4 linked regions of the Homo sapiens genome follow. The protein of the gene in region 1 purifies or fractionates together with the protein of each later gene. This does not show direct contact. Each region holds a gene or a part of one and is shown on either strand. Other genes may lie near its edges.

The links. The genes of interacting proteins can lie anywhere in the genome.
Region 2: the proteins of P4HA1 (region 1) and SQOR fractionate together in Homo sapiens (co-fractionation; one large-scale study listed by BioGRID). This does not show direct contact.
Region 3: the proteins of P4HA1 (region 1) and CPSF6 purify together in Homo sapiens (affinity purification with mass spectrometry; 2 studies listed by BioGRID and IntAct, with this or other methods). This does not show direct contact.
Region 4: the proteins of P4HA1 (region 1) and CORO1C fractionate together in Homo sapiens (co-fractionation; one large-scale study listed by BioGRID). This does not show direct contact.

Annotation. Positions count from the first base shown.
Region 1 is NC_000010.11:73,090,367-73,093,866, reverse strand, and holds part of P4HA1 (prolyl 4-hydroxylase subunit alpha-1 isoform 2 precursor), read left to right. Parts: intron 1-3,500. UniProt on the Homo sapiens protein: Catalyzes the post-translational formation of 4-hydroxyproline in -Xaa-Pro-Gly- sequences in collagens and other proteins.
Region 2 is NC_000015.10:45,641,529-45,645,028, forward strand, and holds part of SQOR (sulfide:quinone oxidoreductase, mitochondrial), read left to right. Parts: intron 1-3,500. UniProt on the Homo sapiens protein: Catalyzes the oxidation of hydrogen sulfide with the help of a quinone, such as ubiquinone-10, giving rise to thiosulfate and ultimately to sulfane (molecular sulfur) atoms.
Region 3 is NC_000012.12:69,270,569-69,274,858, forward strand, and holds the end of CPSF6 (cleavage and polyadenylation specificity factor subunit 6), read left to right. Parts: 3' UTR 1-3,790; downstream 3,791-4,290. UniProt on the Homo sapiens protein: Component of the cleavage factor Im (CFIm) complex that functions as an activator of the pre-mRNA 3'-end cleavage and polyadenylation processing required for the maturation of pre-mRNA into functional mRNAs.
Region 4 is NC_000012.12:108,658,519-108,662,018, forward strand, and holds part of CORO1C (coronin-1C), read right to left. Parts: intron 402-3,500; coding exon 220-401; intron 1-219. UniProt on the Homo sapiens protein: Plays a role in directed cell migration by regulating the activation and subcellular location of RAC1. Increases the presence of activated RAC1 at the leading edge of migrating cells.

The DNA of each region.
Region 1 (3,500 bases):
TTTTTTTTTTTTTTTTTTTTTTTTGAGATGGAGTTTCACTCTGCCACCCAGGCTGGAGTGCAGTGGTGCAATCTCGGCCCACTGCAAGCTCCACCTCCCGGGTTCACGCCATTCTCCTGCCTAAGCCTCCCGAGTAGCTGGGACTACAGCCGCCCACCATCACGCCCAGCTAATTTTTTGTATTTTTAGTAGAGACGGGGTTACACCGTGTTAACCAGGATGGTCTCGATCTCTTTACCTCGTGATCTGCCCGCCTTGGCCTCCCAAAGTGCTGGGATTACAGGTGTGATCACGCCACCGTGCCCGGCCAAAGCTTTGTGTTTCTATTCAAGAAAATTTATTTGTATAAATTGAAGCTGTCCTGTCATTAGGACAGCTTCAGTTTCTCTAGTTGAATAAGTATTGTACCTAAAGAAAAGCTTTGGCAATTCAAAAGGACTCTCATTTAGGTTACTCCAGCAGTTTTTAAACTCGGTGTGGTGAAAAACATTCTTTTTCCTGGTCTTCCTTTGGATGATCAGTATGACTGTTAGTATATTTGATTTGACATTTGCTAAAAATACATTATAGAGATTCAGACTTCTTACCTAGTTGTCATCAGTGAATGAGTTCTATATTGGGCCTTTCTCTTCCTCATGTTTAGTGTTTCATAAAAATGTGTCCATATTACTCATTTCTTTCTTAAATAGTAATATTATGTGGAATTAGTACACTCAGCCTTACTCTCTCTTTTTTTTTTTTTTTTAAGAGATAGGATCTTGCTCTGTTGCCCAGGATGGAGTGCAGTGGTGTGACCATAGCTCACTGCAGCCTTGAACTCCTGGGCTCAAGCAATCCTTCTGCCTCAGCCTCCGGGTGTAGCTCGGGGTACAGATGCATGCCACCATGTCTAGCTAATTTTTTAATTTTTTGTAGAGATGGGATCTTGCTCTGTTGACCAGGCTAGTCTCGAACTCCTGGCCTCAAGTGATTCTCCCATCTGCCCCACAAAGTGTTGGGATTATAGGTGTGAGCCACCATGCCTGGTCATCCTTACTCTCTTGTTGGACACTTGAGCTGTTTCTCCATTATAAGTAGTGCAAAGAGAGGACTGTAATTTAGTGGTTTATTTTATCAACCTGTATAATTACAGTAAACTTTAACCAATTTTTTAATTTTTAAATTTATATTTAAATTTTTTTTTTTTTAGAGACAGGGCCTTACTATGTTGCCCAGGCATGGTGGCTCACACCTGTAATCACAGCACTTTGGAAGGCCGAGGCAGGAGGATCACTTGAGGCCAGGAGTTCAAGACCAGCCTGGTCAGCATAGTGAGACCCCATCTCTCTACAAAAAAAATTTTTTTTTAATTAAGGGGGCATGAGGTTGCATGCATCTGTAGTCTAACTACTTGGGAGGCTGAGGTGGGAGGGTCGCTTGAGCCCAAGAGTTGGAAGCTGCAGTGAGCTATGATAGCACCATTGCACTCTAGCCTGGGTGAGAGTGCAAGACCCTGTCTCTAAAAAAAAAAAAAAAAAAAAGAAAAGAAAAAAAAATTATTTACAATATGGCCAGTAGACTGTAGGAAAATCAAGAATGATGAGAAATGTTTCATAGGAGAAGTAGGACATAAAAATTACATGATATAGCACCATGTGGCTAACATTTTACTAGATATTAAATCTGTAGCACTGAATGGAAATGCATATCTAGATTCACATCCTCTACAACCATGAATTCATTTTTCCCTGTTCTAGTATACATGGTCTTATTTTGTCTCTCTTTACCTCAACTTGAGAAATTTGGATCTGGCATTAGAGTAAACAGATAATTGAAGACTAGAAAGAGGTAGACTGGGTGGAAATAAAAGTGGAATTTTGACAGAATAGCCTTGGGAGGGATGAAGCTGAGTATACCTGGGCCTCAGAGCAATAATCCATTTTTTAGGAGGAAAGGGACTGCTAAAGCCAGCTTTTGAGTATTCTACTCTGACCTGAGTGGCCTTGGTCTGAATAGCTCATGTTCAGAGATAAGAGTATATTTAACTTTTTTGTACTAAGAATAGTATTTGAGTAATGTTATAGGTACATATGAGAATTTGGCCTTCATCTCTGCCGAGTCAGTTAAACACAAGTTTCTCTAGATATTTCCATTACAAGAATCAAAGCTCTTTGATTTTTGGAACTTCAGTAAAACCCAAGAATGAATAGCCGAGAACTATCATACAAGTCATAAAATTAAAAGGCATTGAACAGTGTATGAAGCATCAGATATCCTGTTACATGTGTCTGCAACAATAAATTAAATATTGATTAACTGATTTTAAGTAGGCTCAAGACTTCTCTTACAGTTCTAATCTTATATTAACTAGATTTGCATATCTAATTTCTCCAAAAATATGATCAAGAAATGTTTATTTTAGTCTAGGCGTGGTGGCTCACATCTGTAATCCCAGTGCTTTGGGAGGCTGAGGTGGGAAGATCTCTGGAGCCCAGGAGTTCAAGGCTGCTGTGAGCTCTGATTGTTCCACTCCACTCCAGCCTGGGTGACAGAGCCAGACCCTGTCTCAAAAAAACAAAAAAAGTTGGTATTTCTAAAACCTACTGGTTGAATTTAGGACCTCAAAATGTTACTTGTGTGTGTGACCTTTGTTCTTGCCCTATGGTTCTGACAACCTTCCTCCTTTTTATTTATTTATTTATTTATTTATTTATTTTTTTGGTAAACTCAGGCAACATATTCATAGTCAAAGGTTACATGAAGACATTCTCAAATTTACATGATTTCAAAATTTAGTTACTTCTTTTTTTTTTTTTTTTTTTTTTTTGAGATGGACTCTCACTCTGTCACCCAGGCTGGAGTGCAGTGGCGCAATCTCGGTTCACGGCAACCTCTGCCTCCTGGGTTCAAGCAATTCTCTGCCTCAGCCTCCCGAGTAGCTGGGATTACAGGCACCCGCCACCACGCCCGACTACTTTTTTGTATTTTTAGTAGAGACAGGGTGTCACCATCTTGGCCGGGCGGGTCTCGAACTCCTGACCGGGGGTGATCCATCAGCCTCGGCCTCCCAAAGTGCTGGGATTACAGGCATGAGCCACCGCACCTGGCCTGCAGTTACTTCCTTTAACCTCAAAGATATTTTGAAAATAGACCTCAATTTACTATGCCTGAATTTAAAAAACCTTAATATTGTATTTGAAAATAGTGAATAGTGACCATTGCCACCAAGTAGAGTGATAGTAATAAGTAAAACACTAATCTTTGATATAAGGGTGATTACTAATAAATTGAATAAACTGATATATTTTAACGACTTTATTGAGCAAAATTGACAGGACAAATTGCATATATTTACAGTGTACAATTTGATAAATTTGACAAAAATATCTACTTAAAAAAATATCAGTACAATCAAGATAAGGAACATATCCATCACCTTCAAGAGTATCCTCAAGGTCAGGCACAGTGGCTTAGGCCTGTAATCCCAACCCTTTGGGTGGCCGAGGCAGGAGGACTGCTTG
Region 2 (3,500 bases), on another chromosome or scaffold:
AGCTCCAGAGGGAGAGTTTCAACATGGCCCTGCAGGGCTAAGTGAAGATTGCTCCATTTTCTTTATTTGTTAACAGTATAGTAATCCAGTTCCTGAACACACAAGGCAAGAATAGCACTGCCATTACTCAAGCAGAGGTGTGCCAAGAGGAAGAGCACAGCTGCTATCCTTTCTCGGAACAACACTCATTCAGTTTTCAAGGGGGGTGCTTTCCTTCTCCCTCACAGTGCCTTGGACCTTTACTCCACTTTGAGTAATTCTAGTATTGCTGCTCACATCCTGTCTTCATTATATTCACCTGAACAAGTGGATATAATGTCATCGTTCACATTCTTCCTTCTTCTTTATCCCCTATAGCTGATTGTCGCAAAAATGTCAATGTGTGTCTCACATTCACACCCCTCATCTCTGTTCCCATTCAGACCCCACCCTCACTGTGCCTGAATTTCTGAAACAGCCGCTTAATGGATCTTCATATTCCTGGTCTTTCCTGTTATAACAGACAGACTCTTCTTACCCATCACTGGCTGTGCAGTGCCTAGCACAATCCCTGGCATTTAGTAAACAATCAAAAATGCTGAACTCAACTGAATTGCTCCAGTTCATCCTCTCAGCTTCCCCTGGGGACTCTTTATAAATCCAGTTTTATTAAGACCTTCCAAGGGCTCTCACTGCCATTAGCAGTAACCACAGGCTGAAATGCACACCAGGGCTGAGCAGGTAACAAATGAACAACATAGGCTGAGTGGGGCTGGAGTGAACTGAAACCTTGTGCATGGTGGAGAAGACCAATGACTGCTCAGCTCCAGCCAAGAGTTTCCATGTGAGAATGTGGGCTTAGTGTTAGAGGCCAAGAATCTGGAATATTTTTTGTCGAGATCTCCAAATTTTTTAATGTTGATGACTAATTCAAAATTCAAGAAAAGCACTGTGAGCCAAGCAAAACACAGCTCTGGCCTGCACTTGGCCTGCAGGTTGCTGCTTTGTGACTCCTAGATCAAATTGCCATTGTCTGGGAATAAGCTCTCAGACCTAAACTTTAGTAACACATGCCTATCCAATCTCATTTCTCCCTCTTCCCAGAGCGCTAGACTGCCCTCCTTTATATCCACCGTTAGGAGATTCTCATTGCAAGTGATTCTCCTTTCAAAATCTTGAACCCAACTGTCCAAAAGTAGCCCGAACAGGTCCCTGACATAACTTCCCTTTTTCTGCTCACATAATTCCTTTTTCTTCAGCTGTCTAGATGTCAACTTTGACTTTTTTTTTTCTTCCAGAAGCCTTTCCCACGTCTTCCGAAATTATTCTCTCTTCCCAGCCTCTATCTTATCTGAATCTTTGTTTGCATTTCTAATGCTAACACCTAATTCAGGAGCTTATCGCTCACACCTGGACCACTCCAATAGTCTCCTAACTGATTTGTCAAAATTAGCCCATGTGAAACTGGTTTTGTTTCTCCTCCAACAGGAGGGTTAATTTGTTCCAACACCAGAAGATTCTCTTACTCAAAGCTGCCCCTTTGTGCGATCACTTTCCAGAACTTTGTTTTCCCATGTAAAGCCTCAATGCCCTAGCTAAAAGAGTGGGAGGGGGTCAGGCCTGGAGAAATTGCTGTCTCTCAGCTTGCATCCTTACATACAGTGGGCGCTCAATGAATACTTGTGGACACATTCTTTTTTCTTTTTGAGATGGAGTCTTGCTCTGTCACCCAGGCTGGAGTGTAGTGGTGCGATCTCGGCTCACTGCAGCCTCCGCCTCCCAGGTTCAAGCAATTCTTCTGCTTCAGTCTCCCAAGTAGCTGGGACTACAGGTGCGTGCCACCACGCCCAGCTAATTTTTTGTATTTTTAATACAGATAGGGTTTCACTGTGTTAGCCAGGATGGTCTCAATCTCCTGACCTCATGATCCGCCTGCCTCAGCCTCCCAAAGTGTTGGGATTACAGGCGTGAGCCACCATGCCTGGCCTGGAAACATTCTTAAACAGCAGCAGAATTGTGACCATGCGAATTTCATGTAAGTCTATTTCACAAAGATACACTTACATATTTAGCATAGCTAAATGTAAGTAATTTAATCGTATATCATTTGCGCAGGTAAAAATTCTCCTAATAAAAATTCAGCTTAGATTATCTTTCCTGATTTTCAGTTCTGCAAACTTAGCCCCTGTGTGATTGAGACAAATTCAGTGTAGGTATAAACCTGAATTTGCACATAGACTTATATGCTGCAGAAAACTTGTTTCTCACCTTCTTTTCTGAGCACTTCTGGCTGATGCCCTCCTTTATCAAGGTTAAATGGATAAAATAGATGTGAAGATTTTTCTTGGTGGAGAAGATATCTTAAGTTTCAATAGAATGGAGGATAGTATATGACAAAGGAAAGGAAGGCCACGTGCTGCTTCTTCTAGAGCGGTTACTGCCTTAAAAACTCAAACTGTAGCTATGTTATTTAGTTGCAAAAATTTATAAAAATTTAGCTCAATCACCCACAAATTGTAACATTCTTCGGTACTATGTAATTAAATTGCATTTTAGAGACGGCATAGAGACGGCGTATTTTTTTTTTCTCCTTTTTGAGACGGAGTCTTGCTCTGTTGTGCCCAGGCTGGAGTGCAGTGACGCGATCTCGGCTCACTGCAACCTCTGCCTCCCAGGTTCAAGCGTTTCTCCTGCCTCAGCCTCCTGAGTAGCTGGGATTACAGGCACCCGCCATCATGCCTGGCTAATTTTTGTATTTTTCAGAGACAGGGTTTCACCATGTTGGCCAGGCTGGTCTTAAACTCCTGACCTCAAGTGATCCACCTGCCTCGGCCTTCTAAAGTGCTGGGATTACAGGCATGAGCCACCGCGCCTGGCTTTTAAGATGCCGCCTGACAGTTTAGTGGATATGTGAGGAGAAGAAGCCGAGCAAAAATGTGTTAAACATGTAAAAGCTTCCATCTGACTGAATAGTTGGCACATGCATTTTAATCTAGATGTATTACAACGTACCTGGGATTTGTTTTAATCAAGTATGGTGAGGCCAACAGATCAGGAGGTGACTGCCATGAAGGAAGAAGCTCTTACTCACAGTTCCCTAGAAACAGGAGGCATAACACCTCACATGGGGCCATATGGGAAAGCACCTGCGTAGGTGAAGGGGCAGAAAAAGTGAGGGGAAAGAACAGGCAAAAGACTGTATTGTGAGGCAGGGGAAAGGGCTGGCTAGGTTTGGGATTGGCTAGTTTGAATAATTTTAGAGTGCTCCAGGATTCATGAGCTGCCTATAGTTGTAGTTGTCTGATGCCTGGCCCTGGAATAATAAGGGCAGGGGAAAATTGCCTCTTGCAGGGTTAAAGCCAAATAGAGGAGGTGGTTCAGAATATGGCTCTGGATTGATTGGTTTACATATCAAAGGTGTGGTCATAGGCAAGCCAGGCAAGCCATTTACCATCTCTCAGAGTTAGCTAGTCCTGGGAGGGGCAGTCTCTGGGATTAGCAAGACCCCAAAATGTCAAACC
Region 3 (4,290 bases), on another chromosome or scaffold:
TTGAAGGATGTGATGTTCATTAACATTCGGTTGTATTCCCCAGTATTTGTAATGGGAAATTACAGATAAACCGTGTCTGCACAGTTTAAGGAATACTATGTATATTCATGCACCGTATTGATTCATGCTATAGTTACTTAATCAAAGATTTTTTTCAAACCTGCCTTACATATAGGCCCACTTTAAAAGCACCTGACTAGCATGTGTTCTTGATTGCAAAATTGGCAGAGGCAGGGTGTCAACTTGATTAGGTGTTTTTATGGGAATGTAATTTGAAATCACTACTTCAGAAATTTGACTTAAAATTCTTGAGCACGTTAATATGTTTTTAAGATCTGATTATCTTTGAGAGATCTTCTGTTAATACACATTGGTTGTTAAAGAGTACCCAAATTCTAGGACAATGCTTAAAGTGTTAAAATACCCTAGATACTGTGTTATGTGCAACTGTAGAAACCCTCCAGAAATTTCCACTGCTGTTCTTCACTTTCATCTTGTCTGCTATCAAACCACTTCTGACAAAATTAGCTGTTTTGAATTACCCATATCACTGCCAGTTTTATTTTAAAATATTTTGTGTTTGAAGTATCTGTGCATGGGATCGTTGATGTTTATCAGAACTGTTCACTTTCAGAAATGATTTTTTAAAGCATTTTGTTGAAAATGCGGTTGCTTTTTTAACATTATTTTAGAGTTGTATCAAAATTTTCCTGTTTTCTGTATATTGTTGTGTCATTTCTTGGCTTTTTAATATTTTGACTACAATGCCCTAATGCGAAGAAGTATGGACATATAAATATTACAAGAGAAATTAGTTAATAGTAAAGGGTTAAAAGGTAAGTAAAATGTCCATGAAAATAAAATTTTCTTTGAACAGTTTAAAAATGGAATCACAAAAATCTAACTGCACTTGAAATGAAACTGGAAATTTTATACTAATTAAATCCTTTATTTACCTTTTCATATTTTATCAATGGAACCTTTTAATTGCTCCTTCTATATCACTCTTCTCCTTGCTTGGCTGATCTCATTACATGACTTTCGTTACAGACAGTGTGAGTGTACTAGATTTGTTTGCTGCTAATCCGTTATTTTAAGTGTTGTCAGAAGGAAATAACTTCTTGGTTTGACCAAGTAATTTTGCAAAGTCCTTCTCTACCTGATAACACGTGAATGTATAGCAGTAAAGGTGAAAATTGCAGGCCTTGTTTTGTTCTTCATACCCCCTTCAGTTGTTTATGGGTTAATGTTATTTGAAAACTCTTCCTTTTTTTAATGTGTAAAAACAATCCAAAGAGATAAATCCTTGCATAGACACCAAAAACAGTGTCTCAGAGACCTTTTCATTTTTTCCTTAGTTAATAACTGTAGTGGATGTGAAAACAAACGAGTTGAATTTTAAAACATAGCATTTATTAGTGCTATACAGTCACATTCCTTTCAGCCAGTAGTAAAGTTAAACAGATGAGTGATACAGTACCTGAATGGTACTGCTTCTGAGGCAACACTTTGGATTGAAAGTGCTGCTTTTGGTTAAAGGAACTATGTTGTGGAAAGCATATTCCAGTGTAAATTTGCAGATGTGTGTTTTTTTTTTTTGTCACTTTTCATAAGGTTTGGAGTAAGTTGCAGTGGCTTTTGATCATAGTTTAGCCCATTTAATGGTCCTTTTACCTAGAATGTTCTTAAGCAGTTAATGACAATTTGGAATACACAGATAACTTGTAGCTTAAGATACTATTTTCATTTAATTCTCCTGTGGAGAATATTGCTTTATTTTTTACTAGTTTCAGGTCAGTTATTAAAATAAACATGGAGGTTTTAATGAATGTTGTATAATATTTTATAGTGAAGGAAAATTGTGGAAAGGGCAAAGACTTTCTCTTTCCCTTATGTATTTAACTGTGCCAATCTAAATACATACTGTTTTATACAATGAGATGCATTACAAGACTTTTCTGTTGGAGTGCTCTCGACATTTTGGTTTTCATACCTGAATGATCATTGCATTTTCTGTATTTTCTAAAATGGCTCCAATTTTGTGTTTTAAGCTTCAGCTTAAGAGGAAGTTTATGTTCTAATTCTTGACTGAGAATACAGTATTGAGATTCTCTGTTTTACAGATAACAACTGGTTTTTATTACTCATTAAGTTCATTTGCATCCCGTAGCCCTCTGTAAATGTTTCCCCTAGTTGTATGTACGTAAATGCACGCTTATCCAGTGTATATTAGACATTTTTGTGCTAAAATATATTAAGTGGGATTTTTGTAGCAAAGCATTCTATTTTTCTGTTCTTACAGTGTGTGTGTGTGTGTGTGTGTGTGTGTATGCGTTTTTTTAACCTTAACTTCAGTTTAAACACTGGTGTATTTATTTTTTTAAGCAACTTGACTCTTAGAAGCCTTAGACTGATTTTTTCAATAAATATTCAACCAAAAATTATAAATTTATTAAGATGTGGCCTTACATATGGCATTCCTTGTGTTCGTAATGTGAGATTTTTGATTTAGATAAATCAAGATTCAGGATTAAAGTTTCATTGTAAGTTGAAATAGAAAATGTATTAAAATGTCTAGGCTTCTGGGAGGAAGTTCTTATACTCTTCTTTCTTGGCATTAGAAAGAAGCAATATGAATTTTTGTGAATATTCTAAATATTCAGGCAACACTGTTCAGATTGATTTAGGTTTGTCTTAACCAATGTTCTTTTTTTAGAATTTCAGGTTGTGGCATTCACTGAGTATGCAGCTACTATGGTTTTTGTATGGGACGTATAAATACTTGATTATATACGACAGATTTTAATGTCTTTAAAGACTTCCTGCTGTATTAACATATTGTAATGGAGTCTTTTAAATACTAGGTTGAATTTAATTGAAGTCACACACATCTTGAAGTGGTAACTGCATAGTAAATACTACCAAGAGTTTTTTTCACGTGGGAGTATCCTAAAACTCTGCCATGGGTGTAAATGTTTTACATTAATTTCATAATTGGACAGACCCTGCATTTAGCGAAAACATTTTGTTTTGAAAGTGTGTTCTTTTTGTCGCACTGTTACTGCGTAACACTTCTCAACATTCTGTAAGTTAAATTATTTTAAAATAACTATGGTGAATTCATGTTTATTTTTTTACTTTGAAAATTGTAGTACTCAGGTGGTATTTAATGGGAAAGGATCCTTTGGGTATAAATCATAATGTATTTTAAGGAATGCATCTATAACATTGATAACTTTAGCCTTAAAAAAAAGGTCTATTATTCCTTCCTCTGCATCCCATGGTATATTAGCAAAGTAGTTTACAGCCCTGTACAGCCTTACAAAGTTGTTTTACAATTTTTAATGGAAAGCCCTTAACAACAACAACAAAAAATTGTATCATTTTACCAATATCCACGAATTACTGATCACAGTTTGTAAATAATTTGTTTAATATCAGAAGGCCAAAGAAAGTCTTAAAATTTTAGCTATTGACTCTATGGTGACTTCACAATAAGATTTCTGTGCAAAAAGGTAAGGTGATAATTGATCTAATAGACTTTTTTTTTTTTTTTTTTGCTGTCCATGAGAATTAGACTTCATATTAGCTTCAATTAAAAAGCTCATTCCATTTTATTAAAATGTTTGTAATTGCAATTTTGTGTTTAATGTTTACTTTGTCTTTCCTTTCTTTAGCATTTAGGTGACTGTTCGGCAGTTTGATATATGGCCATTGTCGGCCTTAAACTGCACTAGTAACAAGCATGGTATTTATCTTGTATTGAAAATAAAACAAACTTTTGATAAGACTTTGCAGTTTGTCTTTTTTGTTTAATTTGTTATTTGGTAACCATTGTGTATGGTTTTAAGTAGTTAATGTTTATTGGCAATATGCAGTATAGCAGAAATTGGACTGTTGTCTGTATTCTATCTTTAAGCCAGATAGTGGTGGTTTTCTTGTGTATTGACATTTTGGTGCTCTTTAAAGCGACTGATAATTGGGCTAAAATTAGGATTAAGAGGCCTGACAGATTTCCAGGCTGTTACATGGTTTTTAAATGGAAGATTCAGAAAGCATTTGTCTAGTTTTAGAGGATCATTAACCTTACTAGACTTAAGTAAAAATGTTTGTAGCAAAAATATTTTACTGGTTAGCTTGGAAACATTATGGGGTACTTTTGAAACAGTAACAGACTTCAGTTTCAGTGATTTCAGTAGATATTTCTGTGCCAGGTATTAATATCAGGCCTCAGATTTCTTACCTGCAAGCTTCAGAGTATTAAAGGTAACAGTTCTAAACAAGTGAATA
Region 4 (3,500 bases), on another chromosome or scaffold:
TACAAAGTGAGAGACTTGAGTAAAAGCTGGAAAATTTACAACTCTGGAGAGAAGCACAACTGGGGAGACAGAAGCCTTTATAAGCCTTCTCTTATTCACAGTTGGTGTCTACACACAACAGGGTCCCACTGACCAGTACCGCTGCCTGCCTTAAAAAGCAGAAAGCTCACACTCACTCAAGTGCTCCAACTACTGAGTTTTCATCCTAGGAATACTCACAGCAACAATCTCTTGTTTCCTGGGATCAATGACTCTCACTTTCTTGTCTTTGGAAGCTGTGCAGATCAGACTGCCATTCCGGTTCCAGCTCACATTGTAAATCATGTCTGAATGCATATCGTCCAAGTTTATAAGGGCTTCCCCTGTTCCCACATTCCAGATGATAATGGCATTATCACAGCCTAAAACAGGCAAAACCATCAGAGATTAGAAGATTAGAAACACCTATGTAACACACTCAGAAAACTACAGATACAGTGAGAATACACATATGTATATGCAGAGAGAGAGAGAGAGAAAGAGAGAGAGAGAAAAGATGCGGCTGATTGTCAGAGGCCCTACCAGAGGCCCTACTTACTAACAGCGTTAAAAACTGAAGTGACAAAGGAAAAAGTTTGTATAAAAGAAATAAAAGTGTTAAAGTAAAAACACAACTTGTTAAGTTTGGGTTCATATGAAACAATCAACCAAACAAAAACAAAGAACCACACCAAAACAGAACCCTATTTTCTTTAAAGAGTTAACTGGGCTGGTAGACCCAAGTGACTTCAAGTTTCCCTTTCTAGTAAAACAAGCATCAGGGTGTTGCTGCCAGCTTTGGGAGACCCCTATTAGGCAAATACGCTCCTTCCTTTTAAAGAAAACTTTGATTTTCCCCTGCTATACAATTAGTACATGTATACTATAGAGAACATATATAAACAAAAGGAAAAAAAATCACTTTTAATCCCACCACTCAGAGAGAAGATCATTATTACTTTTTTGATGTTTCTTTCCGAAAGATATTTCTGTGCACATACATAAATTATTTTACATACAGAGATGGGTTCATACACTTTACACATGGGCTGCTTTCTGCACTTGGTGGTAGGCTGTGACCCTTTTCACGTGCCAAATAAACTAAAAGTAAAAGGTTTAAATGACTGTTTAGGGCACTCAACAAAAACTCTGGGTGGCAGGTTATTCAAATCAGTGAGACTCTAAGACACAGCTTTGGGATATTAAAGATGGTACAACAGTGGAAGGGAAAAGCCAAGAGTAAGGCCTGTTTGCTCACAACAGATCTGTACCTTTAAATGAAGAGAAAAATAGGCCAAGACTGCTCTGATCATGGTGAGAAGCCCAAACTGTAATCAAGTAGCTACATAGATTCAGAAACGGATTCTGAAAGAAGCCCACAATGTCAACTCATTCACCATCTCAGCTCACCAACTCCTTCCTTCCTTCAAGGGTCTGCCCCACGCCTCCAGGCCCCTTTAAAAAGAGGCAGCATGTGTTGCTCCTAGGATGTTAGTTCAAGGATGAAGCAAAATACGGGAAGGACATCCTAGAGGTGGATTCTTGCCAACAAAGCAATTTGGAAATCATTTAGAAAAAATAGTCACTAACATCCAGGATACTTAAGTTACCTAAGGGTTAGAAGTAGGAAACTGGCCGGGCACGGTGGCTCACGCCTGTAATCCCAGCACCCTGGGAGGCCGAGGCGGGCAGATCACCTGAGGTCAGGAGTTGGAGACCAGCCTGACCAACATGGAGAAACCCTGTCTCTACTAAAAATACAACATTAGCCAGGTGTGGTGGCACATGCCTGTAGTCCCAGCTACTTGGGAGGCTGAGGCAGGAGAATCGCTTGAACTCAGGAGGCGGAGGTTGCGGTGAGCTGAGATCATGCCATTGCACTCCAGCCTGAGCAACAAGAGCGAAACTCCATCTCAAAAAAAAAAAAAAAAAAAAAAGAAGTAGGAAACTGGAGAAAAAAACTACACAACAGTAACAAAAGTTGAAGCTAAACTCTGGGATGGACAATTGAACCTTCCTCTGCCTTCTTCCCTATAGGCAAACAGGTAACTTCAGCCCCGGCAGCTGGATCATATAGCCTAAAAATATGCAGAACACGACAATCACCCATTCTCCTTCACATGTAAAAGGGAGAATGCAGACCAGTCTGTTGCTGCTGCCCTGTATTGAGCCTTGATGAGAAAGGTAGCAGGGAATTTTCCATGAAGGAATTCCAGCTCTGGAATTTTTTTCCTCTCCTTAATCAGACTGAGGTTCTGAGAGAACATCAAAAATGATTCCCAAGTATAGTCGATGGTGATTATAAAAAACATGGCATCTTTTTTGAAAAGTGGGCCTTAGTTTCAATAGTTACTTGGCATTATAATTTTTTATTTAACTCACTATGAGTCATAAACATTGTGTATTCCCAGTTAAAAACTGAACTGCCCCTCCTCCTTTTTACTGGTGAGGGGAAAGACCTTTAAAAATCCTATCTCTAACATTAGTATCACTTTTTAAATAAACCACTTTTATTAAGGTATAACTTACATACAATACAATGCACCCATTTTAAGTATATATTTGCTAAGTTTCAACAAATGTATAAACTCATGTAGCCACTACTATGATCAAGATACAGAATATTTCCATCACCCCACAAAGTTCCCTCATGCTCTCTGTATTGCTTTCATAAAAGAAAATGAAATCTCCAATTTTAGATAAAGGAAAAGATTTCTGTACAACACCAGTGTCCAGAAATAGGGGACTTATCAAGTAAAATGAGGTATATCCAGAAAATGGATTAGTATGAAGTCATTAAAAATAGGAAGAGAGCTTAATGGCACGTGAAAAGGGTCACAGCCTACCACCAAGTGCAGAAAGCAGCCCATGTGTAAAGTGTATGAACCCATCTCTGTATGTAAAATAATTTATGTATGTGCACAGAAATATCTTTCGGAAAGAAACATCAAAAAAGTAATAATGATCTTCTCTCTGAGTGGTGGGATTAAAAGTGATTTTTTTTTCCTTTTGTTTATATATGTTCTCTACAGTATACATGTACTAATTGTATAGCAGGGGAAAATCAAAGTTTTCTTTAAAAGGAAGGAGTGTATTTGCCTAATAGGGGTCTCCCAAAGCTGGCAGCAACACCACAGAGGGAACACAGGGCTTCTGGCTCCCAACAAAGTACACCTTCTACCATATCAGAAATAACCAAAACTATGGTTCATGGAGGGCCCTGGCAGGAACCATGAAACCTGCTGAAATTATAGCAGGAAATTCATAGCTTTCCTCAGGTTGTCGAAATGGCCTTGAAACACACACACGTGCACACACACACAAGTATGTATGTGGGCTGGGGGAGCAGTGCACCCCAATACTCTTCACCATGGTTTCCTAATAATCTGCTTTAAAACCATATAGCACACAACCAAAACACATTTGCTTCCCCCCACTCAGAGAGCCACAAGAGTGGAAGACAAGGGGAGGACCGCTGAGCT